7 linked regions of the Homo sapiens genome follow. The protein of the gene in region 2 purifies or fractionates together with the protein of the main gene of each other region. This does not show direct contact. Each region holds a gene or a part of one and is shown on either strand. Other genes may lie near its edges.

The links.
Region 1: the proteins of SOCS6 (region 2) and HIGD1A purify together in Homo sapiens (affinity purification with mass spectrometry, with the first as the bait; one large-scale study listed by BioGRID). This does not show direct contact.
Region 3: the proteins of SOCS6 (region 2) and WDR48 purify together in Homo sapiens (affinity purification with mass spectrometry, with the first as the bait; one large-scale study listed by BioGRID). This does not show direct contact.
Region 4: the proteins of SOCS6 (region 2) and WDTC1 purify together in Homo sapiens (affinity purification with mass spectrometry; 2 studies listed by BioGRID and IntAct, with this or other methods). This does not show direct contact.
Region 5: the proteins of SOCS6 (region 2) and POLA1 purify together in Homo sapiens (affinity purification with mass spectrometry, with the first as the bait; one large-scale study listed by BioGRID). This does not show direct contact.
Region 6: the proteins of SOCS6 (region 2) and KIAA0232 purify together in Homo sapiens (affinity purification with mass spectrometry; 2 studies listed by BioGRID and IntAct, with this or other methods). This does not show direct contact.
Region 7: the proteins of SOCS6 (region 2) and SCAMP3 purify together in Homo sapiens (affinity purification with mass spectrometry, with the first as the bait; one large-scale study listed by BioGRID). This does not show direct contact.

What each region holds. Positions count from the first base shown.
Region 1 is NC_000003.12:42,794,491-42,797,990, forward strand, and holds part of HIGD1A (HIG1 domain family member 1A, mitochondrial), read right to left. Parts: intron 1-3,500. UniProt on the Homo sapiens protein: Proposed subunit of cytochrome c oxidase (COX, complex IV), which is the terminal component of the mitochondrial respiratory chain that catalyzes the reduction of oxygen to water. May play a role in the assembly of respiratory supercomplexes.
Region 2 is NC_000018.10:70,292,045-70,295,544, reverse strand, and holds part of SOCS6 (suppressor of cytokine signaling 6), read right to left. Parts: exon of another isoform or gene 498-3,500; intron 467-497; exon of another isoform or gene 1-466. UniProt on the Homo sapiens protein: SOCS family proteins form part of a classical negative feedback system that regulates cytokine signal transduction.
Region 3 is NC_000003.12:39,086,516-39,090,015, reverse strand, and holds part of WDR48 (WD repeat-containing protein 48), read right to left. Parts: intron 1,889-3,500; coding exon 1,783-1,888; intron 786-1,782; coding exon 698-785; intron 1-697. UniProt on the Homo sapiens protein: Regulator of deubiquitinating complexes, which acts as a strong activator of USP1, USP12 and USP46. Enhances the USP1-mediated deubiquitination of FANCD2; USP1 being almost inactive by itself.
Region 4 is NC_000001.11:27,293,632-27,297,131, reverse strand, and holds part of WDTC1 (WD and tetratricopeptide repeats protein 1), read right to left. Parts: intron 3,111-3,500; coding exon 3,016-3,110; intron 2,619-3,015; coding exon 2,503-2,618; intron 807-2,502; coding exon 731-806; intron 85-730; coding exon 1-84. UniProt on the Homo sapiens protein: May function as a substrate receptor for CUL4-DDB1 E3 ubiquitin-protein ligase complex.
Region 5 is NC_000023.11:24,710,918-24,714,417, reverse strand, and holds part of POLA1 (DNA polymerase alpha catalytic subunit), read right to left. Parts: intron 1-3,500. UniProt on the Homo sapiens protein: Catalytic subunit of the DNA polymerase alpha complex (also known as the alpha DNA polymerase-primase complex) which plays an essential role in the initiation of DNA synthesis.
Region 6 is NC_000004.12:6,862,727-6,866,226, reverse strand, and holds part of KIAA0232 (uncharacterized protein KIAA0232), read right to left. Parts: coding exon 2,044-3,500; intron 36-2,043; coding exon of another isoform or gene 1-35.
Region 7 is NC_000001.11:155,259,561-155,263,552, forward strand, and holds the start of SCAMP3 (secretory carrier-associated membrane protein 3), read right to left. Parts: upstream 2,801-3,992; 5' UTR 2,592-2,800; coding exon 2,526-2,591; intron 2,175-2,525; coding exon 2,097-2,174; intron 1,100-2,096; coding exon 977-1,099; intron 891-976; coding exon 770-890; intron 1-769. Other genes in the region: dual specificity protein kinase CLK2, read right to left, coding at 3,658-3,840. UniProt on the Homo sapiens protein: Functions in post-Golgi recycling pathways. Acts as a recycling carrier to the cell surface.

The sequences.
Region 1 (3,500 bases), on a different chromosome or scaffold from region 2:
CCGTTTCCCCTGTACAACCCATTCATTTTTAGCACCATGTTAATTAAAAATAGTGAAAAATTTTAAATTGATGTTACTTTTATCAATTAAAATAGTAGCTACTAATTTTCTGGCTATCTTCATCCTTAATCAACTATTTAACTTGACAATTTTAAGTTACTCAAACCAAACTGACAACTCCTATTGAACCTTCAATATCATGTTGGAAATCCTACTTAGCACTTTTCGGTGTAGTTAAATGCAGTCTTTATTGCTTTCAACTGCTGATTTATTTATTCCAATGTGCTTCCTTGCTTCAATTTTCACTTCAGATTAGTTTCCAGTCTATTACAGTAATCTGTTATCCATGGTGGTTGCCTCTGGGGAAAAGATTATTCTGAATAGCCAAAGTTTCTACCTAGCTCATTATTTACTCATTTTAAGAACAAAGCTTTTATTTTAAATATTGGTAGAAATGTCTCCTTCATAGCCTTTTAGATTTTTTTAATGACCTATGATTAGTTTTTTTTCTTTTTTGAGACTGAGTCTTGCTCTGTTGCCCAGGGTGGAGTGCAGTGGCACGATCTCGGCTCACTGCAACCTCCATTTGGCACACACCACCGTGCCTAATTTTTTTGTATTCTTTAGTAGAGACAGGGTTTCACTCCTGACCTCACGTGATCCACCCACCTCAGCCTCCCAAACTGCTGGGATTACAGGTGTGAGCCACTGTGCCAGCTTATGATTAGCTTTTTTTTTTTTTTTTGAGATGGAGTTTCGTTCTTGTTGCCCAGGCTGGAGTGCAATGGCGTAGTCTTGGTTCACTGCAACCTCTGCCTCCCAGGTTCAAGTGATTCTCCTGCCTCAGCCTCCCAAATACCTGGGATTAGAAGTGCCTGCCACCATGCCTGGCTAATTTTTTTTGTATTTTTAGTAGAGATGGGGTTTCACCATCTTGACCAGGCTGGTCTCGAACTCCTGACCTCAGGTGATCCACCTGCCTCCCAGTGTTGGGATTACAGGCATGAGCTACCACACCTGGCCCTATGATTAGCACCTTTTAACATCACTGCAGCACAAAACTGAATTACCCTCAGGGTCTTCTTAATATCTTCTAAGCTTCAGATCTGCCTTCATTTACATACCTTATATCCCCTAGGCTTCCTTTTAAAACTCTACCCTCTTTTTATAATTCCTTTAAATGGTATCCCAAAGGCAAGATCTAGCCTGATAGTGTATGAGTAAGGGGATAGGAAAAAAAAAAAAAGGATTCATTTTCATTATCACAGGGATCAAAGGCTCCTTTCCTCCTTTTCAGTCATCTCCGTGAATAGCCCTTTTATCACAATGAGGCATTAACAAATGCTATTTCATTTTAGCCACAATAACAAAGTATACTTTCTTCACTGAACTATTTTGAATTGCAATAAACTTTACTCACAGATAAAATAAGGGCCTGAAGCATAGTGTAAGCATACAAGTCTCTAATTAGTGTCAATTACAATAAACTTAAAAGTCTATGCCCATCCTAACACCCATATAAAATCTTACTTTCACTTCTGGGTTTTTCATGTGCATTATGCTCCCTTTGATAAAAGTACCTCTCATTCAACACCTTGCTACTCAAGGGGAGTCAGTGGCAGTTAAGGTCCTCAACAAAAATGCAACTCCGGAGGGGGTGGTGTGCTTAGTTTAGAAAGTGAATTCATCCCTATAAGCCTCACCTTCATTGAGAAGACTCAACTGTCATCTGACATAGAAGAAAATCTTAGCTAAATAAAAGAAAATTTAGATTGGACTTAAACCTTCTTTTTGTACTCCATTACTTCTTAACTGAATAAACTCCTAAGTAATGAGCTTTATTATATATAAGGTTCAATAAGCTCAAGGTTCAAGATACTCACTATATATCTGAATAATACAATATAAACACTAAAGTAATTAATCGTTCAAAAATTAGTTGTTGTTTTTTTTTTTAAAAAAAAAAGAGAAATCATGTAACCGCCAAACAGGTTCACCTTGCCCGCTGGCTAGACAGAGCTGATTTACCAAGACAGGGGAATTGCAATAGAGAAAGAGCAATTCACCCAAAGCCAGCTGTGTGGGAGACCAGGATTTTTATTATTAGTCAAATCAGTCTCTTGGAGCATTCAGGGATCAGTTTTTAAGGATAATTTGGTGGGTGGGGGAAGGCCAGAGAACAGAGTGCTGATTGGTTGGGTTGGAGATGAAATGGGAAGTTGAAGCTGTCCTCTTGTGCTGAGTCAGTTCCTAGGTAGGGGACATAAGATCAGACGAGCCAGTTTATTGATCTGGGTGGTGCCAGTTGGTCTATCAAGTGCAGGGTCTGCAAAATATCTCAAGCACTGATCTTAGGAGCATTTTAGGGAGGGTTAGAATCTTATAACTTCCGTCCCTCTCCCTCTCCCTCTCCCTCTCCGTCTCCCTCTCCGTCTCCCTCTCCCTCTCCCTCCTTCTCCGTCTCCGTCTCCGTCTCCGTCTCCGTCTCCCTCTCCCCACGGTCTCCCTCTCATGCGGAGCCGAAGCTGGACTGTACTGCTGCCATCTCGGCTCACTGCAACCTCCCTGCCTGATTCTCCTGCCTCAGCCTGCCGAGTGCCTGCGATTGCAGGCACGCGCCGCCACGCCTGACTGGTTTTGGTGGAGACGGGGTTTCGCTGTGTTGGCCGGGCCGGTCTCCAGCCCCTAACCGCGAGTGATCCGCCAACCTCGGCCTCCCGAGGTGCCGGGATTGCAGACGGAGTCTCGTTCACTCAGTGCTCAGTGGTGCCCAGGCTGGAGTGCAGTGGCGTGATCTCGGCTCACTACAACCTCCACCTCCCAGCCGCCTGCCTTGGCCTCCCAAAGTGCCGAGATTGCAGCCTCTGCCCGGCCGCCACCCCGTCTGGGAAGTGAGGAGTGTCTCTGCCTGGCCGCCCATCGTCTGGGATGTGAGGAGCCCCTCTGCCCGGCCGCCCAGTCTGGGAAGTGAGGAGCGTCTCCGCCCGGCCGCCATCCCATCTAGGAAGTGAGGAGCGCCTCTTCCCAGCCGCCATCACATCTAGGAAGTGAGGAGCGTCTCTGCCCGGCCGCCCATCGTCTGAGATGTGGGGAGCGCCTCTGCCCCACCGCCCCATCTGGGATGTGAGGAGCGCCTCTGCCCGGCCGAGACCCCGTCTGGGAGGTGAGGAGCGTCTCTGCCCGGCCGCCCCGTCTGAGAAGTGAGGAGACCCTCTGCCTGGCAACCACCCCGTCTGAGAAGTGAGGAGCCCCTCCGCCCGGCAGCTGCCCCGTCTGAGAAGTGAGGAGCCTCTCCGCCCAGCAGCCACCCCATCTGGGAAGTGAGGAGCATCTCCGCCCGGCAGCCACCCCGTCCGGGAGGGAGGTGAGGGGGGGTCAGCCCCCCGCCCGGCCAGCCGCCCCATCCGGGAGGGAGGTGGGGGGTCAGCCCCCCGCCCGGCCAGCCGTGCCATCCGGGAGGGAGGTGGGGGGGTCAGCCCCCCGCCCGGCCAGCCGCCCGG
Region 2 (3,500 bases):
GTAATACATTACTGAAAACCAAAATTAAGCTTTAAAAACAAACACCATTATTATACACATCACAACAAACTTTAAACAAGTAACATACAGATACAGTAAAAATCTACCAGTAAGAATTCATCTGACTTTCAAAGCATGCTAACCCAGCTGCTTCAACCATCTAGCATATTATTGATATGGTCAGAACAATGTGTACCACAAAAATCACTGTAAGTGCCACCATAAACAGCACCAAATAATCAGCTACCCAGAGCGCTGGGTAAAAATACCTTGTCTAAAGATTAACACTGAACTATTGAAATTGTTTTTGATGGAAATCTTATCTAATAGGAGCCATACATTCCTGTCTTCAAAAAGGTATTTTAAGCACAAGTGTGTATATTAAGTATAATCTCAGACTGTCACAAACTGCTGTATATAAATGGATGCCTCTCCAGATGACCAAATTTATCTGCTGGAAAATTTCAGGATGGCATAATGACACCATTAGGACTTACTGATGTTCAGATTACTGCCTGCCTTCCAGGCCTTCAGATATATCCTGTCTTCTTTCTTTTCTTCTCTATACTCAAGAGTCCGATGCTATGGAAAATAAGATAATCATCACTCCCCAGTCTCCAAGTGTGATGCCCTTTTAACAATTTTAGAAAGTATTTTAGTGTGTTCGCTGTTAGGAGTGATAAAACAGTATCAGAACAAACATAATCAGAGCAGAAGGCTCTGCAGAGAAGGCAAGTGCGGCATCTTTTTTGTTCTCGGTCTCCCACCAATGAACTGCAATGACCCCACAGCCAGGTCAGGCAATTGCTGCTAACACTGTGACCACCTGTAATCCTTACCAGTCTAGCAGCTTGCACTAGCAATCCTTCTGAAGGCGCCCATTCACTTACTGCTTTCATTTCCATTTCTCTTGCTCTTTTGGTCTCAAACACTTTTCCCACATTAGGCTTCCTTAACAAAAACATTCAAGTCTAACACAGGTGTGGCTGATTAATCAGAATACTACTTTTGACTAGTCAGATTATGTTTTAAATTAATAGTAATAATTACTTTAAATAGGAATTATTACCATTATTATATATTATAAAAGAGGGGGTGAGGAGAACAGTTAGAAAACAAAACTCCCACAGCCAAAAAGTAAACATCCAATAAAAGAAAAATTGAGGGAACTCCCCTCCAAAGAACAACAACAAAAAAAACTGACAAGAAAAACGGACTCCTACTCAGTGGCCAGGCCCCCTGGGATGTGTCAGGGACACAGAAAAGAATTAATAGTAATAATTACTTTAAATAGGAATTATTACTATTACTTTAAAACATAATCTAACTAGTCAAAAGCAGTCAGATAAAGGAGTAGAATACTAGTGTTAAAGTATTAGCACTTGTTATATTTCAGGCACTTAATACACTAACATGCATTATCTCATTCCATTTTCTTTCTTTTTTTTTTTTTTTAAACGGAGTCTCGCTCTGTTGCCCAGGCTGGAGTGCAGTGGCACAATCTCGGCTCACCACAACCTCCACCTCCCAGGTTCAAGCAATTCTCCTGTCTCAGCCTCCCGAGTAGCTGGGACTACAGGTGTGTGCCACCATGCCCAGCTAATTTTTGTATTTTTAGTAGAGACGGGGTTTCACTATGTTGGCCAGGCTGGTCTCGAACTCCTGACCTCCTGCTCCACCCGCCTCAGCCCCGCAAAGTGGTGGGATTACAGGCGCGAGCCACCGCGCCCGGCTATCTCATTCCATTATCACACCAGCTCTGAGAGAAACATCATCATTATTATATACGTAAAGGAACAAAACCTTAAGTTTTTTTTTTTGTTTTAATCTACCCTATAAAATTGAAGTGCTGAAATTCAAACCTAGATCTGCATCCCCATGAGAGACTGTCTTCCTTAGTTAGCATGGAGGGCTTCTAAGTCTCTGGCTTTTCTAATTCCAAAGGAGATTTTCCTTCTGGCTTAATTCTACACCAGAAAACTGAGGATACCAGGAGATTTCAGATAACTGAGGTTTCACTTCACTAAGCTATGTAAGCAGGAGAAATGGGTTTTGGGATGGTGACTTTCTATACACTATACATGACTATACTTCCAGAAGTGAAAGAGATCTGGGCGTCTACACTGCCAGTCAGTCTGGTACTTGAGTCACTCAGACACACATCATAGCTCTACAGGCAGTGACAGTTGTCTCTCTGTGGGGCTGTTGGGGCCATGTAATGATAAGGACTTTGGTTTTATTAGTGCTATGATTTACTCAGCCAGGCAAGCAGACCAGCTCAGAAAAGGACAAACGACATGAAATACCAACAACTTTCTAACATGTACACAGCACATCTCTGCCTTTAAGGTGTAGATAACAACATGAAAACCGCAACTACTTTCTGTATACCCACACCCCTCCTACTCAGTGGCCAGGCCCCCTGGGATGTGTCAGGGACACAGAAAAGAAGGACCACAGTAGACACTCTGCCCTCATAGAACTTATTTGGGGGGGGTGGCGGGGGAACAGCAGAAACAAGTAAACAAAGTAATTACAGACAATAATAGAGGTTATGAAGGAACCACACAAGTCAATTACTTGGGATTACTGAAGGAGCCATAAGGTAGTCAAGGAAGTCTTCTCTGAGGTGGTGATGCTCTGAGGTGGTGCCACTGGCATTAAGATCTGAGAATGAACCAACCACAGGAGCCACCGAAGGCACTGTAGGCAAACAGAACTACTGTGTCAAAGGTGGCGGAGCAGGAAGCAGCTTAGATTGTTGAGGAACGGAAAGGCTAGGGCAGAACCCTGGTAAGGCAGAGATGGTTGCTCAAGATGAGAATTAGGGAGAAATGAAAACACATTTCAGAACTAGGCAGAAATGTTATAGTCGATGAGGAAGAGTTTGGATTTTTGGCTGGGCACAGTGGCTCGTGCCTGCAATCCCAACACTTTGGGAGGCAAAGGTGGGAGGATCACTTGAGCCCGTGATTTCAAGACCAACTGGGCAACATAAGGAAACCCCATCTCTACCAAAAATTAAAAAAAATCAGCTGGGCATGGTGGCATGCACTTGTGGTCCCAACAACTGGCGGAGGGGGTGCTGAGGCAAGAAGATCGCTTGAGCCTGGGAGGTCGAGGCTGCAGTGAGTCCTAACCGTGCCACTGCACTCCAGCCTGGGCAACCAGAGCGAGATCCCCATTTCAAAACAAAACAAGAGTTTGGATGTTACCATAAATACATATTCATTATAACTGTGAGATAAATTATTGTCCCCACTTTAGCCCCAGATAAGACTCAGAGGGCATACAGAACGTGTTCAACGTGACAGAGCGGGTAAATGGATGCCCCAACATGTCCAGAGTGTGCAAGGTGAGAACTGAAATCTTACGTGACTTTATCTAAGTATGTCTGTTCTCGAAACATCAAGACCAACGGCCACCTAAAAACAACTGCCCCAACGAAGTAAAATGTAAGGTTTGTATGGGTGGGTAAAGACCTGAAATCAGTTTAAGTA
Region 3 (3,500 bases), on a different chromosome or scaffold from region 2:
ATTCCACTTCTAGGAATTTATCCTAAAAAGCACACAAAGATATATGTACAAGGATGTTCACTGCAGCACTATTTGTAATAGAAAACATTGGAAACAACCTAAATGTCCATTAATAGGGGACTGATTAAATAAATTATGGTACATTTATACAGTAGAATCTTACACAGTCATTAAAAAGGAATGATTCACATGTACAGACATGAAAAGATGTACAGACATGAAAAGATGTCCAGGATACATTTTTTTAGGTGAAAAAAAAGTTGCAGAACAGTATAAGAGATTTTGTGCAATATAAAATGAACTGTAGACACATCTATGTACACAAATAATATATGCTTGTATGCAAAGAAAAAAGTACTGAAGGCTATGCATTAATTTATTAATAGTTGTTACCTCTGGGAGGAAGGATAGGGAGTGAATGGGCAAGAATGAATGCTTGGGGAAGATGAGAGCTTCATTCATTTATTATTTTGTTGAATAAGCATATATTATTTTTATAATTAAAAACCAACAAAGCTAGATAGATAAATAATTATCAGTACTATTTCTGCAACTTTGGAACTGCAAGGAAGCAGATGGGGATTCCACTTGGGAGTCTAGCTTTTATTAAGGTTTAAAATTATAATGTCTAAAGCAGTTCTTAATTTCATGAGTTACAAAAAAATAAAAGAGCAAAGTGGGAGTGGAGGATACTTACATCCACAGTGATGTCAATTACCCATTGTGGCACTGTTTCATTAAGAAGCATAGACTCAGTCTCACCCCCGGAATCTCGGCAGAGCAGCCTAAACATAAACCATCAAGTAGTAAGTAACCCAACAAGCACAGATGTCAAAATCACTGTCAACAAATATTAGCGGGAGGAACCCTCATGGTTTTCATGTAGGATAACCCCCACTTGACAGCTGAGGAAATAAAAGTACAGCCTGGAAGAATGACTCACTCAGCTAAAAGGGAAAGCAGGCCCTAAAATCAGGCCCCCAGATTCCAAGGCCAGGCATACACTACAGCTGCTTCTTGGAGTCCTTGGGTGATGACAGGAAACCTGGGTGCAAGCAAAGCACCCAGTAAAGGTCCCCAGCTAGTGCCACAGTGCATGGCAGAGACTTTCACACACAGTGGAAGTCAGAATATTTCTGGTAACCACTCAGGAAACTATCAGAAAGATAGATAATCCTGCACTCAAGAATAAGACAAGCATGTCTTATTCTTTCTTTCTTCTGGCACCTATAGACTAGTAAGCTCTCCCCCGGCTCTACCAGGACCTTGCTAGCAACTTGGAGGTGAACCAGTCCAGCCCTTCCCTGAAGGGCCCCACACATAACTGTCTGGCACCCCAGGCAGTGTCAGTGTCAGCCTCAACAGTTCCCAGGAGCAGCCCAGCTCATCTTGGCTGGATCAGCCTAAGAAAAGTAATGTAATGTACTCTGAAGCTCTTCTGTGGGCAGGGAATTCTAGTGGTATCATCTGTTGCTTGGCCCTTGCAGTCACACGGGCAAAGTGAAGGAAAGTGAGAATTACCTACAGAAACCAATAGAGAAGCTGCTTCGAGGCAAAGTATTCTACCTCATTCGAACACTAGAGTTTCTCCTCCCAATTAGAATGTGGTCTAACAGCAGCAGACATTTCACTATCTCATGGACATGGGATGCTTCCAATCCCTGGCATCCCTAGAATTTAATAATAAACTATTTCTAATATCGAAATACTGAGTTTGAGTCGACACTTCTTAGCAAATGGGATACCTTCTCAGGCAGAACCTCTTGTCTTTCTTACCCATACCTGAACAGTGTGCGACCTCCAGCTTCACCAAAGATCACGGGTGTATGTGGGGGCACTTGAAAATATCCATTTCCCTTCTGCACTCGGTTCTCCTGCTCCCCATTTACTAGGAAAAGATGCAGGTGGTGTTAATATCAGAGTTAGTGCTAAAAATACAGATTCTAAACATTTTACTCCCACAAGCTTCAAACATTGCAAGATTAAATTCAAATGTCCTCTAAGTCCACCAGAGTTAGAAATAAAGGTTAAAAACAAGTTAAATTTCTGAAAATAAGAAACACAGCAACTTGTGGTCTATTTCATGGAAAAAATGACTGTATTTTAGAGGATTTTAATAAAAGAGATTAATGTTTGAGATTCAGAACAAAAACATAACCAGCTACTTCAGCCACAAGGAAGTCTAGGACAGCCTGTATATAAACGAAGATCTAGAGTTTTTTTGTTTTTGTTTTTTGTAGAACACCAAGCTCAGAAAAATTTCTTGAGGAAAAAAAAATTACATTTAATGGCAGCCATAACTAAAGACAGAAGCATTTGTGAAAAAATCCTCAAGGAGTCCACAATTTTGCTTTTATTGTTCTCTGCAGATTTCCTTTCCACTGTTGTTTTTTCTTTGAGACGGGGTCTCATTCTGTTGCCCAGGCTGGAGTGCAGTGGTGTGATCACAGATCATTGCGGCCTCAACCTCCCCTGGCTCAAGTGATCCTCCCACCTCAGCCTCCTGAGTAGCTGGAACTATAGGCACACACCACCACAACTGGCTAATTGTTTACATTTCTTGTAGGGACAGGATCTTGCTATATCGCCCAGCATGGTTTCAAACTCCTGGGTTCAAGGCTGCTGGGCAGGGCAGCCTAAACATAAGCCATCAAGTAGTAAATGACCCAACAAGCACAGACGTCAAAATCACTGTCAACAAATATTAGAGGCCTCCCAAAGCACTGGGATTACAGGTGTGAGCCATCACGCCTAGCTCCATTCTGCTTTCTTCATAAACTTTTGACCCAGCACAGGTGGGTGATACCAACTCAAGTGCCAATTCATTCATGACACTTTCCTCATCAAACTGGAAGCATCTGACCCCCTGAAATCCTATAGCATTTGTGGAACCTCTCTCCTAGCACCCTTCTATCTCAGAATGCTTTCCATAAGTAACTCTCTGCCATACCAGAACATCAGCTCCTGAAGGACAGGGACCATACCCATGTGTCTTTAGTACCCCCACCTGAAACTTGGTAAGGGCCCCTGAATAGTAGAGCTGCTCACCAAGCACCATCTGAACAACTCCAGAGTGTCCACTGAGTATGCTGCAGGTGCTGTGGTCTGAGCTCTGGATGAGGAAGTAGCCATGCCCTGCCCTACCTTTCCCATGCAGTCTGATGTTAAGGATGACGTGATTTCTGGTGATGTCTTCCTTATACTCCTCACCCAAAGCCTAGATCCAAAGGGTGCATGACTATACCACTGTTTTGATAACTTAATCCTTATTGCTTATTTGGGTGGCTGAGAGTATCCCATCTAACTGGAAATGATTTGCCCACAGCAACATAGCTGTTAAGCAGCAGAGCCCACCCCAGAACCTAGCTTTCTTGACCCTCTGTGGAAAGATTTTTCCATCAGTTTCTTTAGCTCAAAGTCCACTGTACAATTCTGACAGGGATCAAAGTGTGTCAGGTGATGTAAAAGAAAAGCCACCATGGGTGGGGCAACAGCACCCT
Region 4 (3,500 bases), on a different chromosome or scaffold from region 2:
GCCGGAAGCCATTGCTATGAAGGTGCAGGCCATTGGACACACCGTTGGACACACCGTTGGTGGACATCTTGCCATTCTGGACTTCTGGCAGGAGATAGTGAGAAAGTGACAGCAACAACTCAGGAAGAGGACCCATTTCTTCCTGGCAGCCCTCTAGCTTCCATCACGGGGTCTGATGGTTCCATCGTGGGACTGTTCTCCCAGAGTAAGATCCATTCCCAGAAAGCAAGTTCTGACATAAAGAAAAGCCCGTGCGCCCTCTGCTGGCTGGCGAGGGACACAACTTCACCGTGGCATTACTCAGCTGGGGCTGGGGCTGGGGCTAGGGCTGGGGCTGGGGCTAGGGTTGGGGCTGGGGCTAGGGCTGGGGCTGGGGGTGGGAATGGAGTGAGGAGGTGCCTAAATCAACTGTAGGCCCCAGGAAGAAATCAATGAGAAGACTGGGCCAGGATACAAAGGAGAGGGGAACTATTTCAGGTTCTCAAGAGCCAAGCCATGGAAGGAACCTGTCTTTTCAGAGGGAAGCAAAAAGGGCAGTGATGCAAAGCTCTTGAAGAGATCTCTGCTCTATTGTCATCCTCTTTCTTACTGCATAGGTGGGGTTATTTCAGAGATCTGCTATTTTTGGAGGATCACGGTCCAGAGTAAAGGGCAGGCTTCTCAGCAGGTGTAGCATGCACTTAAGCTCCCCTACACCGCCGCAGTAGAGATACCCTAAGGGAGAACTTACCCCCCGAGGAGTGGCATTTTCTAGGCAAGAGGAAGGTGTACGGCCGCTGCTTGTAAGTCAAGTCAAACAAATAGACCTAGAGTTGAGGGGGGCAAAAAAAGAGATGGAAGCTGTGAGGTAAGGATGTGGTTGAACCAGTAAGCAGGTCTTGGTTTCTCAAGAACTAGAGTCTTGGAACACAGTGAGTGTTGAGCATAGAACAATCAAGCTATCCTAAGAGGTACTTCCAGCAAACCTCAGGCTGGAAAATCTTCCTAGCTCTAGCATTCAGGGTGGGCTATCTGATCTACCCAAAGTCCTGCTTGAAATACTATCATTAATTAGAATCACATTTGGCTGGGCATGGTGGCGTAGCCTGTAATCCTAGCACTTTAGGAGGCTGAGGCAGGAGGGTGGTTGCTTGAGCCCAGGAGTTTGAGACCAGCTTGGGCAACATGGCAAAACCCCGTCTTTACAAGAAATACAAAAACTAGCCAGGTGTGGTGGCGTGTGCCTGTGGTCCCAGCTACTCAGGAGGCTGAGGTGGGGGAATCACTTGAGCCTGGGATGTCGAGGCTGCAGTGACCTGAGATTGTACCACTGCACTCCAGCCTGGGTGACAGAATGAGACCCTGCCTCAAAACAAACAAACAAACAAACAAAATAGAAGGTCAGGTGCAGTGGTTAATGCCTGTAATCCCAGCATTTGGGAGGGTGAGGTGGGCGGATCACCTGAGGTCAGGAGTTCGAGACTAGCCTGACCAACATCGTGAAACCCCATCTCTACTAAAAATACAAAATTAGCCAGGCGTGGCATGTGCCTGTAATCCCAGCTACTTGGAAGGCTGAGGCAGGAGAATTGCTTAAATCCAGGAGGCAGAGCGGAGGTTGCAGTGAGCCGAGATCGCACCATTGCCCTCCAGCCTGGGCAACAAGAGCGAAACTCCAACTCAAAAAAAAAAAACAAAAAACACGTCACATGTTTAAAAAGATGAAGAAGTCCTCAAAGGTCACAAAGCCAAATGTTTACCCTAGCACTACTCCTGAGCTTTTCATGATTCCTTGGACAGGTCCAGGAATGTCTGGCTTATCCTCACCTATTCTGCATCCCGCTTCATTTGTATATATTTGGGCCTTGCCTTGTAATGTCATTAACTGTTTCGTTTGTCATGTCTCCCATCAGCCTGGGGATGGATCATATTTCCCACTTGTCTCTATTATATTTATAATAATGCGAGTCCCAGAGTAAGTGCTCAGTGTTGGTAGAGTAAATAAATGTATGCAAGGCTTACTAAATATCCTGAGAGCACACAAACAGAAGGTTTAGCAACCTGCCATTATCAAAGAACACTTCCCAAAGCTGGCACTAACCCACAGCTTGCTCTGAGCTGCATGCTCTGAGCCCCAGGGATTTCCTCCTAGGAAAATAGCAGACGAGGAAACTGAGGCTCAGAAAAATAAAGAGACTTGCTCAAAGTCACAGTAAACAGCTGCTGAACAGCAGGCCAGCATTTGAACAGAAGTCTGTCCATTCCAAAGCCTATATTCTTAACCAAAATGCCATACTATCATATTTCTATCTAGTTCATTAAGAAAAAATGAAATAAAAAGACTGAGCTAGGACATCTCTCTGGGAACTCCAATGATGCCACATCACCCCCACATTTCAATGTAACATCATTTACCATAAGGCTGTTGTGTCTTGTCTGCCTCAGCAGTGAACATAAGGTACATGCCCCTGGCTGCTGGGCATGGAATGGTGATGGGGCAGAACCACCTTATGCTGTACATACCTGTTCCCCCCCCATGTTGACTAGTAGCTCTGTGCCATTGGGGCTGAAGGTCACATAGGTGGCAACCAGCACTCTCAAACGGTTGTTGTAGTCAGGAAGCTTCACTGGCAGGTGACCTGCAGGGAATAGCCCAGTCATACTAGGGTCCCAGTCCCTTTCAAAGGGGCATGAGATTGTGTGAAGTCAGTCATATCAAAAATTATACCAATCAACTTTAGCATAAAAGCAGCTACAAGTGTTGAGCCCTTACTATATGCACTGGGCTAGTTGCTTTATATATTTTATCTCATTTAGTCATTATAACCCCATTTTACTTAACCTTGATGAGTTTCTTTTCTGTAATTTGCTGAAGGTGACATAGCTTGTCAATGGCAGAGTTGGGATTAAAACTCAGGTCTGTCTGACTCTAAAACCCTTGCTCTTGACCACCATGCCATGCTGTCTCCCTGGACTGCCCCCAAAAGAGTCAGCATCTAGCCGAGAGTTTGGGGCCAGAGCTGTGCTGAGCGCTACCTGCTACGTAATACTGGGCTGCACCGTCCGGAAGGGGTTTCTGCCGGTCACAGAAGGTGTGCACACCCGCTGAAGGGCTCTGCTTCATGCTCTTTCTGGTGGGAAGGAAAATCATATAGGTTAAAGTTACAGCACTGCCCCTGGCTAGACCAGACCACACTCACTAGACGAAAACTTACATTTGTATCTGAGACATACAGGAGGTATTTTTCCTCCTTACCTAAGCAACCCCAAAGGCCCACCAACTAGACAATTACAGACATATACATTACAGTGCTTTACCAGGTAGGTCCTATAAGCTGTCTGGGTCTTCATGACCATCTTATTTTTCCCATTTTACAAACAAGCAAGCTAAGGTTCAAGACCCGCTCCAAGCCATGCAGTGTGTGAGGGGCAGCAGTGGTCACCAAGCCCATGAATGAAAATAAACAGGCGACATTCCTGCATCCATCCCAAGAATCATGGAAAGCCCAGGCTGGAGAGGC
Region 5 (3,500 bases), on a different chromosome or scaffold from region 2:
TTGGGAGGCCAAGGCGGGAGGATCACGAGATCAGGAGATCGAGACCATCCTGGCTAACACAGTGAAACCCTGTCCCTACTAAAATACAAAAAATTAGCCGGGCATGGTGGTGGGCGCCTGCAGTCCCAGCTACTCCAGAGGCTGAGGCAGGAGAATGGTGTGAACCCAGAAGGTGGAGCTTGCAGTGAGCCAAGATCACGCCACTGCACTCCAGCCTGGGCGACAGAGCAAGACTCCATCTCAAAAAACAAAACAAAACAAAACTATGAGATTCTATACAAGGTATGTAGGAAAAAATATTTTAAATGAGTTTAATTCAAGAAAACATGGGCCAAATGTTTTTATAGAAACTAATGAAATACCAGTTAAATATCAGCATAAGTGTGACTGCTTAACTGCTATTGTTAATGTGAATAAAAAGCTTTTTAAAAAAGTGAGAATTTGGGTTTGTTTTCCCCACAGAAATAAAAAGATAAAGCTAATCTTGAACCAAGAAATTAGCCTAGTAGCCTTCATGAGATCATCTCTTTAGCTGTATACTGAATCTGATAGGAAAATTTAACTGTGAAGAAATGGGATTACCAATTATGATATGGTGGCATCCTAATTTCCATTTTATGAGAAACAGCAACCAGATACACAGTATGTCATATCAACACTAAACAGCACAGAGACATCTGCTCATTAAAGAACAACTTTTGCTGGCCGGGTGCGGTGGCTCACGCCTGTAATCCCAACACTTTAAAAGACCGAGGCGGGCGGATCACGAGATCAGGAAATCGATACCATCCTGGCCAACATGGTGAAACCCCATCTCTACTAAAATACAAAAAATTAGCCAGGCGTGGTTGCCACATGCCTGTAATCCCAGCTACTCGAGAGGCTGAGGCAGGGAAATCGCTTGAACCCCGGAGGCGAGATTGCAGTGAGCTGGGATCGCGCCACTGCACTCCAGCCTGGCAACAGAGCAAGACTCTGTCTTGAAAAAGAAAAAAAACAAACAAAACTTTTGCCATATGTTTTCTCTTACGGCTATGTGTAAATCACCTACAAACTTTTCTAATACCGTCAATTTTACTCTCGCTTTCTGATTCATCCCAGAATAGTCCTGATCTCAAAAAAAAGCCAACAATGAATAATTGAAAGAATGTGGTAGGCCAGGCGCGGTGGCTCACGCCTGTAATCCCAGCACTTTGGGAGGCCGAGGCAGGCAGATCACGAGGTCAGGAGTTCGAGACCAGCCTGACCAACATGCTGAAACCCTGTCTCTACTAAAAATACAAAAATTAGCCAGGCATGGTGGTGCATGCCTGTAATCCCAGCTACTCGGGAGGCTGGGGCAGGAGAATCGCTTGAACCCAGGAGGCAGAGGTTGCAGTGAGCCGAGATCATGCCATTGCACTCCAGCGCTCCAGCCTGGGCAACAGAGCAAGACTCTGTCTCAAAATAAAAAAATAAAAAAAATAAGAATGTGGTAGTGGCATACAAATAGACCAAATGAAACAGAACATAAAGTCCAGAATAAGACCCAATTACTTATGGAAATTTAATATATAATGAAGGTGGCATCCCATATCACTAAGGAAAAGATGGACTTTATTAAGTAGTGTTGGCTAGCCATTTGTAAAGAAGTAAACCAGTATAAACACCAAATGGATCACAAATCAAAATTTTTAAAAATGAAACTTTACAAAAACCTTTTAAAAAGCAATTCCTTTGCAATTTGGGTCCAGTGAAAATCTTTCTATGACTCAGAATCCACTTGCAAGAAAAAAAATGATAAATTCAATTACACCAGAATTGGTGTAAAAAGAAAAACCAAGAAAAAAGAAAACCAAGTTAAAAGAAAAATGAAGAAAAAATTTGTGCAATATGTATCACAGATAAAGGACCAATTTCCCTGACAAAGAACTTTTAAAAACTTAAAAGATAAAAAGCCCAAAAGGAAAGCAGGCAGTAAACACAAACATATATAAATAGTTACGTTTTATGAAAAGATGATCAATTTCATATGTAAAAGAAATGCATATGAGGCTGGGCATGGTGGCTCACATCTGTAATCCCAACACTTTGGGAGGCCACGAGGCGGGCGGAATACGAGGTCAGGAGTTCGAGACCAGCCTGGCCAACATAGTGAAACCCCATCTCTACTAAAAATACAATAATTAGCCGGGCATGGTGGCACACACCTGTAGTCCCAGCTACTTGGGAGGCTGAGGCAGGAGAATCGCTTGAAACCAGGAGGCGGAAGTTGCAATGACCTGAGACCGCACCACTGCACTCCTGCCTGGGTGACAAAGTGAGACTCAGTCTCAAAAACAAACAAACAAAAAAAAATGCAAATGAAAACCACACTGAAATGCCACTTCTCACATATCAGAGTGGCAAAAATTCAAAAGCTTGAAAACACTGTTAGTAAGGCTGTAGAGAAACAGACATTCATACATTGTTCATGAGAGTGTAAAATGGGACAGCTCCTATAAAGAATAGGCAATAGCTAATAAAATTTTATGTGTAGTGGGCTGGGCGTGGTGGCTCACGCCTGTAATCCCAGCACTTTGGGAGGCCAAGGCGGGTGGATCATCTCAGGACAGGAGCTCGAGACCAGCCTGGCCAACATGGTGAAACCCCGTCTCTACTAAAAATACAAAAATTAGCTGGGTGTGGTGGCAGGCACCTGTAATCCCAGCTACTCAGGAGGCTGAGGCGGAAGAATCACTTGAACTCAGGAGGCAGAGGTTGCAATGAGCCGAGATCGCGCCATTGTACTCCAGCTTAGGCAACGAGCAAAACTCCATCTCAAAAAAAAAAAAATTTATGCGTAGCTACTCTTTGAGCCAGCAATCCCACTTCTGGGAATTTTCTCTGAGGAAAACGCCATATGCACAGAGTTATTGGATGTGGCATTATAATAGCAAATTACTCAAAATAATCTAAATGTCCTTCCAAGGAAACCATTTGAATAAACATTGTGCAATCCCTATCATGGAATACTATGCAGCTACATAGAAATAAATAATTAAAAACAAGCTCTCTATGTTCTAATATGGGGTAATTTTCAAGACATCTTGCTACAAGAAAAAAGCAAAGTACAAAACCTCTATAACATTATCTTTTGTTTAAGAAAGAAAAGGGGCCGGGCACCGTGGCTCATGCCTGTAATCCCAACACTTTCCCAGGGCAAAACGGGCGGACTGCTTGAGCCCAGGAGTTTGAGACCAGCCTGGGCAACATGGCGAAACTCTGTCTCTACTAAAAACACAAAAAATTAGCCGAGCGTGGCAGGATGTGCCTGTAGTCCTGGCTACTCGGGACACTGAGGTGGGAGGATAGCTTGAGCCCAGGAGGCGGAGGTTGCAGTGAGCCCAAATCGCACCACTGCACTCCATCCTGGACGACAGAGCAAGAATCTGTCTCAGAAAAAAGAAAGAAAAGGAAATAAAAATACATATACATGCCAGCGCGGTGGCTCACACCTGTAATCCCAGCACTTTGGGAGA
Region 6 (3,500 bases), on a different chromosome or scaffold from region 2:
ATCTTGCTTCTTTCCTCTTTTTCTTTCTTCCCAATCTGGAACCAGGTGAAATACAAAGTACATAAAGGAATATTTAAGGATGAAAAATGGGGCAATAAACAAACAGATAAAGGCTAACAATATTATTGGGTTTTTTCTTAGCAGTGTTTCAATGGGATTAAATTCATCCTCTACGGGTCTCTAGGTAGCTGATTAGAGCAGTGCCTCTCAAGTCGCCTGGGGGCTTCCTAGAATCACAGGCAAGCAGTCCCACACCTGGGCACTCTGATGCGACAAATAAGTAAGGCATGGTCCACAGCCACAAGGAGCTTATAGTCCAGGATATAAATAACTCATGAGAAATGAAAAATGCAATCAAAAAGAGGCATAAAGTGCATGAAAATTAAGAGAGGGGCAAAATTAATTCTGATGCAGAGTGGGGCTGGAGCAGGGGAGAGAGGGAATTAGGGAAAGTGTCAGTGAAGGAGGTGGTATATGAAATAAGTCTCATGGTATGGGTAGGATTTGGATGTGCAATGGTGGGTAGGGTGTGCAGGACAGTTGGGAGGAAGTGCAACACTCATCTGCTCTCTGGCCACAGGTGGCATGGCTTCTAAACACCTCCATCTCTTTTTTTCAATAAGCTGGGCCGGACGCGGTGGCTCACGCCTGTAATCCCAACACTTTGGGAGGCCAAGGCAGGTGGATCACTTGAAGTTAGGAGTTCAAGACCAGCCTGGCCAACCTGGTAAAACCCCGTCTCTACTAAAAATACAAATAATTAGCCGGGCGTGGTGGCGCATGCCTTTAATCCCAGCTACTTGGGAGGCTGAGGCAGGAGAATCACTTGAACCTGGGAGGTGGAGGTTGCAGTGAGCTGAGATCGCACCACTGCACTCAAGCCTGGGCGACAGAGCGAGACTCTGTCCCCAAAACAAAACAAAAACAAAAACAAAATTAAATAAACTATTTCTGGAGAAAGGCTAGGCACTCACATATCGAAAACAGTGGAAAAATGGGCAGACTGCTGTGCTTTTTTTGTGAAACAGTTTATTGTCTTAAGTGTTATTTCTTGTACAATCAGTTTAACCTTAAGCCATTTCTTGGGCATACAGTGGAGAGGTACAATGACTCTCATTAACACAACTTAATGTGATCCTCATTCCATAGCCTTAACATATAATCCACACAGCTTCTGGAATATGTACTTTGTATAAAGCAAGATACATCTGTATAGGTTCTGTAGAAGAAATTTTGTTGCATTTGGGCTGTGGGTGAATTTCTACATGTACCACAATGTATTTTTGAGAACTCCATAGAGATATAATTTGTTTTATATGTAAAACACAAGTTTTGATAAAGTGATCAACTTCTAAGAGTCAGTTAGACAGGTTTGCTACACTTTAATAGCAGCCACTTCCTGATTCATCAACTTTGAATGTTAGAACACTTTCATGTTAGGTTTTTGCTTTAAGCATAATACATGTATTTTTTTTTTTTTTTTTTTTTTGAGATGGAGTCTCACCCTGTCACCCAGGCTGGAGTACAGAACACGATCTCGGCTCACTGCAACCTTTGCCTCTCGGGTTCAAGTGATTCTCCTGCCTCAGCCTCCCAAGGAGCTGGGATTACAGGTGCCTGCCACCACGCCTGGGTAATTTTTGTATTTTTAGTAGAGACGGGGTCTCACCATGTTGGCCAAGCTGGTCTTGAACTCCTGACCTCAAATGATCTACCCACTTCGGCCTCCCAAAGTGCTGGGATTACAGGCGTGAGCCACTGCACCCGGCCAATAACATGCATCTTAAGACAACACATAGGAATCTTACATCCTGTGATTTTTAAAAGCTTTTTCTCTCCAGAAAAACTCTACTGTCTAGTTCAAATTCATAAATATCAAATCCATTTTAAGTCCTTACATGTAAAATTAGAACAATTTAAGTTTTAAGACATTTAAGCTAATTTCCCAATAATTTAACCCTATCTTTCATTGACTGGCATGTCTGTTCTTGGGTTAAACTCTGATCAAATCCTTTTGTCAAATACCAACACGCAGACACATACCTCTTCCAGCTGTCCCGAAGAAACTGGATTATCTTCATAAGCAGGAAACTGACAACCTGCTTTGCAACCACAAAAATTATTAATTTCTTCCTCGCATTGTGCCATTATTTTACAATTTGCTTCTGAGCTTTCTAAATCTATTTCCAGGGATTCATTCATGCTACATTCCAAACACTGATTTTGCTTTCCTACTGAAAGAATCCCAGTTGATTCCTCCTGGGAATCCAGTGATGTCTGAGCACTCTTTTCCATCCCAGATTTTTTTAACCTGGGAAGGAATTTTCCAGACTCAAGCTCTGATTTTCCATAGTAATGGCCTTCTTTCTCTGCATCTTCTTCCAAAGGTTTGAGATCTGCCTGCGGATCTTCAAATATATCAACTTGAGAAGGAATGGGAATATTTGCTTCATCTTTCTCAGATTCAAATTCTGACTCGCTTCCTCCTCCTGGGGACAGTTCGGATGCAGAAATTGGGCGAAAGTGAGTCCGAGGAGAGATCCGAATAGCCCTGTATTGTGTTCTGTCAACACCACATATCCTGGGGTGAAACACTTCACTGTCTGAATCAGAACAGAGGATTGATTTCGGTTTAAAACTGGGGCTGAAAGATGCAATCCCTTCAGGTTCAAATGAGCATTCTACATGAAGAACTTGTGAAAATGGATTGCTTAAGTCAAAGGAAGAAAATGAGTATTCAAGTCCAGGATCTTCGACTTGAAAGTTGCCACAAGCTCCTAGTAAGTCTTCATGGAAGATAAAAGAAAATCCCTTATTTAACCCATTTTCCCCACTCTTCGGCTGATCATTCTGTTCAAATGACACGAAGGGTTTCCATAACTGCCTGTGCCCAGGAGCAAAACTGTTTCCTGGGGTCATAAAGACATCTGTACCAGCTATCGTCACAACATCAGAAGCTGCACACTGTAACAGACTTCCTTTTGTGTGACTAGGTGGTACGACTGCCCACTCCCCATCACTATTGAAGGTTTTGAGTTCTCCATAAACTCCTCCAAGAATGAATGTGTTTTCTTTATCTTGGGCTACATCCCAGGGTTTAGAGGGTGTTGTATAATCACCACCATCCACGTTTGATAGCTCACTAGAAGCAAATGCTCTTTTCTCCAGGCTCTCTTTCTGTCCCTCCCACAGATGGTACTCTGACCTCCGCACAGCCTTATCAGGCTCCTGAAGGGTCTCCAGTTCAGCTTCAGCATCTAGACAGCAGCAGTAGTTATTTACATCTGCCGAAAACAACTCAGCATCAGTTCTTTCTATTTCTACTGTAGCCACAGAATTTGTGTCTGCCATCTTTGTCCAAATGTCTTTAATAACCCCTGAGCTGTAGCCATCTCCATGTGGACTTTCATTACATACTTGTGTAGTTTCAAAATTTTTGTTTTCTGTTTTTTGTTCTAGCTGAATACCACAGACGGATTCTAGTTTAGATGTTTTTTTGA
Region 7 (3,992 bases), on a different chromosome or scaffold from region 2:
CACTATGTTGTCCAGGTTGGTCTCTAACTCCTGAGCTCAAGCAACCTGCCTGCCTCGGCCTCCCAAAGTGTTGGAATTACAGGCGTGAGGCACCATACCCAGCCCTGGATCCTCTCTTTTATCTCCAATTTGGGGTCCAAGGAGACAAGTGAGAGTGGAAAAATTAATACTGTTTATTATTATTTAAAACATCTAAGCACTGTACCAAGTACTTCACATATATTTTGTTTAACCTTCACAACAACCCTGTCAAACGGATGCAAACGTGGTTTTCATTTTATAAATAGGGAAACTGAGGCATTCAAGATTAAGTAACTTCCCTAAAAGCTCATGGTTAGTAAGCAGTATCTCTAAAATTCAAACTCAGCAGTCTGACTCCAGAGCCCAGGTTTGTGTTTTTTTTTTTTTTTGAGATGGAGTCTCACTCTGTCACCAGGCTGGAGTGCAGTGGCGCTATCTCGGCTCACTGCAACCTCCACCTCCCGGGTTCAAGCGATTCTCCTGCCTCAGCCTCCCGAGTAGCTGGGACTACAGGTGCGCGCCACCATGCCCAGCTAATTTTTGTGTGTGTGTATTTTTAGTAGATACAGGGTTTCACCATGTTGGCTAGGATGGTCTCGATCTCTTGACCTCGTGATCCGCCCACCTCAGCCTCCCAAAGTGCTGGGATTATAGGTGTGAGCCACCGCACCCAGCCGAGCCCAGGCCCTTAAGACCTGTTTTTGCTCCTCCCAAACTCTCAGATGCTCTTCCCCACTCTATTACTTACTAGCTGTGCCCCCCAGGGCAGCATGCTGCAGCTCTCGCTCCCTTCGGTCCAACTCCTCTGCCTTCCGGTTGAGCTCCTCCTGTTTCTTCAGCAGCTCAGCTGTGGCTGCTGCAGCTGAGGCCTGCCCAGTGTGAGCAGACGGAGATGTGAGCCCTGGGCCCCAGGACTGGCCCTTCTCCCCAGCCCTCACCTGCACACCTCCTGTACCTGAGTGCTGTATGAGCCATAGTTCTTAGGTTCTGTGGGGCTGAGCTTTCTCGAGGGCTGCAAGGAGGGAGCTGAGGGTGGAGGCAATGGGGCAGGGGCTGGAGGCTCATAGGCTGGTGGTGGCTGTTGAGGAAAAGACCTTAGTGATCATCTAGTCCCTCATAACACAGGAATCTAGAGTCTGCTTGAATACCTTTAGACCCAGAACTCATGATGTAAGGAAGCAGCCTTTCCCCCATTTGTTAGGAAGCTAGTTCTTCTGTTGAATTTCTGTCAGAGAACTCTATGATGACCTGTAGCAGCCTTATCATCCCTCATATCCAATTCCTTAGTGAGGACTCAAATCACTCATTTACCATATCTCCCCACTTAACTGTGTTTTTTTTTTTTCTTTTCTTCTGGGGATGGAGTGTGGGGTTGTCTCTCTGCCACCCAGGCTGGAGTGCAGTGGTGCAATCATCACTCATCGAAGCCTCAAACTCCTGGGCCCAAGCAGTCTTTCCATCCCAGCCTCCCAAGTAGCAAGGACTACAGGCATGTGCCACTACACCTAGCCAATTTTTAAAACGTTTCAAGAGATGGGGGTCTCGCTGTTGCCCAGGATGGTCTCCATCAAATTCCTGGGCTCAAGCAATCCTCCCACCTCAGCCTCCCAAGTGGGATTACAGGCATGCACACCATGCTTGGCTTTTTTTTTTAAGTTTTAAGTACCATGAAAACCCCTTAAATTCTTACAACTCACCATCTTCTAATCCAGTGGGACAAACAGGTGTAGTCCTCCTCATTCCTTGCTTTCAAACTGCACACCTAACCTAAACTCCAACCAGCCCCAACCTTTATTTTCTTCAAGAAAGCCTTCCCATACAGAACATTGGTTAAGGCCTTGCCAGCCTCCAGATCTTCCCAGGACTGACTTTTAGAGCTCAAACCATTTGGGTTGGTGGCCCTGGTGGCCCTAGAAGGATGAGGCATCCCATGGCTGACTAGCCTCTCTCAGGGAACTAAGATCACAGTGCCTCTTCCTTCCTGTGCATGCAGAAAAGTCCCCTGTACCCAAGCTAACTTGTCTCACTGGCAAACCCTTCCCTTCCTTGAACTCCTATGCTCTCCAGTAGCTCACCTCCCGGGTCTCAAAAGGGTTGTAGACGTCAAGCGTGGCATACTGCCGGCTGGGTCGGTGCTGGATCACAGCTGGGTCCTGAGGGCAGAGACCCGGGTCTCAGCTGGCACCCAGTGCCACCTAGGGGAATTCCCAGGGACCATTCCCAAACTGCCTGTGGCTCCAAGTACTGCACCTTCGGGGCCACGCCGTTGTCCCAGGACTGGGACAACATTTACCTCAAATCCATCATCCAACACTGCCAGCACCAGCCCATTAAGGGGCAGGGCCCGCCCCCCAGAGTGCTCACTGGTCTGGAGTCACTGTCACCCCACGTGGCGGCTCTTCCCAGGATCAAATGTCACAAATGGGGATACAAGTTAGCCCGACCCTACAGAACCGGGAAGAATCAACCTGACCGCCCAAAAGAGGCCGACTGGCGCAAGTCACCTGAAAGGGGTTGTCAAGCTCGCTGGGCTCGGCGAACGGGTTTCCGCCGTCTCTGCTCTGAGCCATGTTTGCAACTGCGGCCTCCGCGGCCCTCTGCCCTCCACGCCCCTGCCGCAGCAGTGGCGGTAGCGGTAGCCCTCAGAGTCCACTTCACTCGCCTCAGTTCGCCCCGCTTCTCTGTGCACGGATTGGTTCCACCGACCGGAAGGGCCACAAGGATCCCCGCAGCAGCCGTGGGTTGCGCCTGCGTCTTGTCCAAAAGCTAAGACGAAAGTGCCCCCACGTGATACCTCTAACCCAGTGCCCACAACCAACTACCGCCCCTCTTCCATGTGACTTCCTTCCACTAACGAACTACACTTCCCAGCAGGCCTCGCGTAGGAATCCGGCCTTCCTAGTCTCCCGAGATGGACGACGGGAGCCTTCTGACCGGTCGTGGCAATCCCCCCTAGGAGCCAGGTTGAGCACGTTTTCAACCTGAGTTTCTGGCTCTATACTGGGCCGCGGCCTAATGACTCTAGGAGTCAGATCTTTCCCAACTCTCATAATTCCACATCCGAGAAGTGCCACCTCATAACACTTCTCTGTTTTAATCTGAAAGAAATGCTGCCCCACCCATCACTACCCTCCCATATGATAAGGTGGACAGGGGAAATAAACTGGTAGCCTGGCTGTGCTTCATTTTGGAGGGTAAGGAGGACTCCCTTCATACCCAAACTCAGAAAGTTTGCCAATAGTTTCATCCCTCCACCCCAGCATTCCCAAACCTCCAACTCCAGGGATGGGGGTCAAATGAAGCACGTTATTTTATTTCACAAAGACTGTACAAAATTCCTTATAAAACATGGGGTAGATGCCACCTGGTTACCTCACTCGGCCCCCATCCAACTCCGTATGAGGGGGCAGGTGAGGGTGGAAACTGTGTGGATGGAATAGTATTATGTACAAGGCAGGGGTTGAAGTGATAGGTACAAGTTCTTTCATATTTACACTATTTCACATATTCACAGGTATATAGAGAGCCAGGAGGAAGGAGTGAACTCTGGCTCGTTCTCTTGTATAAAAAAGCACCAGTGTCCTGGACTGGACACCCACTGCTATAAAAGATGCAGGGGGGCCCAGGGCCTGATCGTCACCGACTGATATCCCGACTGGAGTCCCACAACTTGTTGGGCGGCTCAGCCCGAAGGCGGGCGAAGAAAGGATGCTGAAGGGCTTCACCCAAGGTCAGCCGCTTAGCTGGTTCATACTCTAGCATGCTTTCAATCAGATCGAAGAGCTGGTGGTGTTCCTCTGCCTCTGAGGTCAGATACCGCTGGTGGAGGAGGGCAGGAAAAAGGTGAGGCAGGATGCCTTACAAACCCTGCCTTCTTCAAGACCCTACCTTTCATTCTTGGAGAACCAAGGCTCTGCTTGCAACCAATTTGAAGGCTACCTAACCACGACCACACCAGGACCAACGTTTCT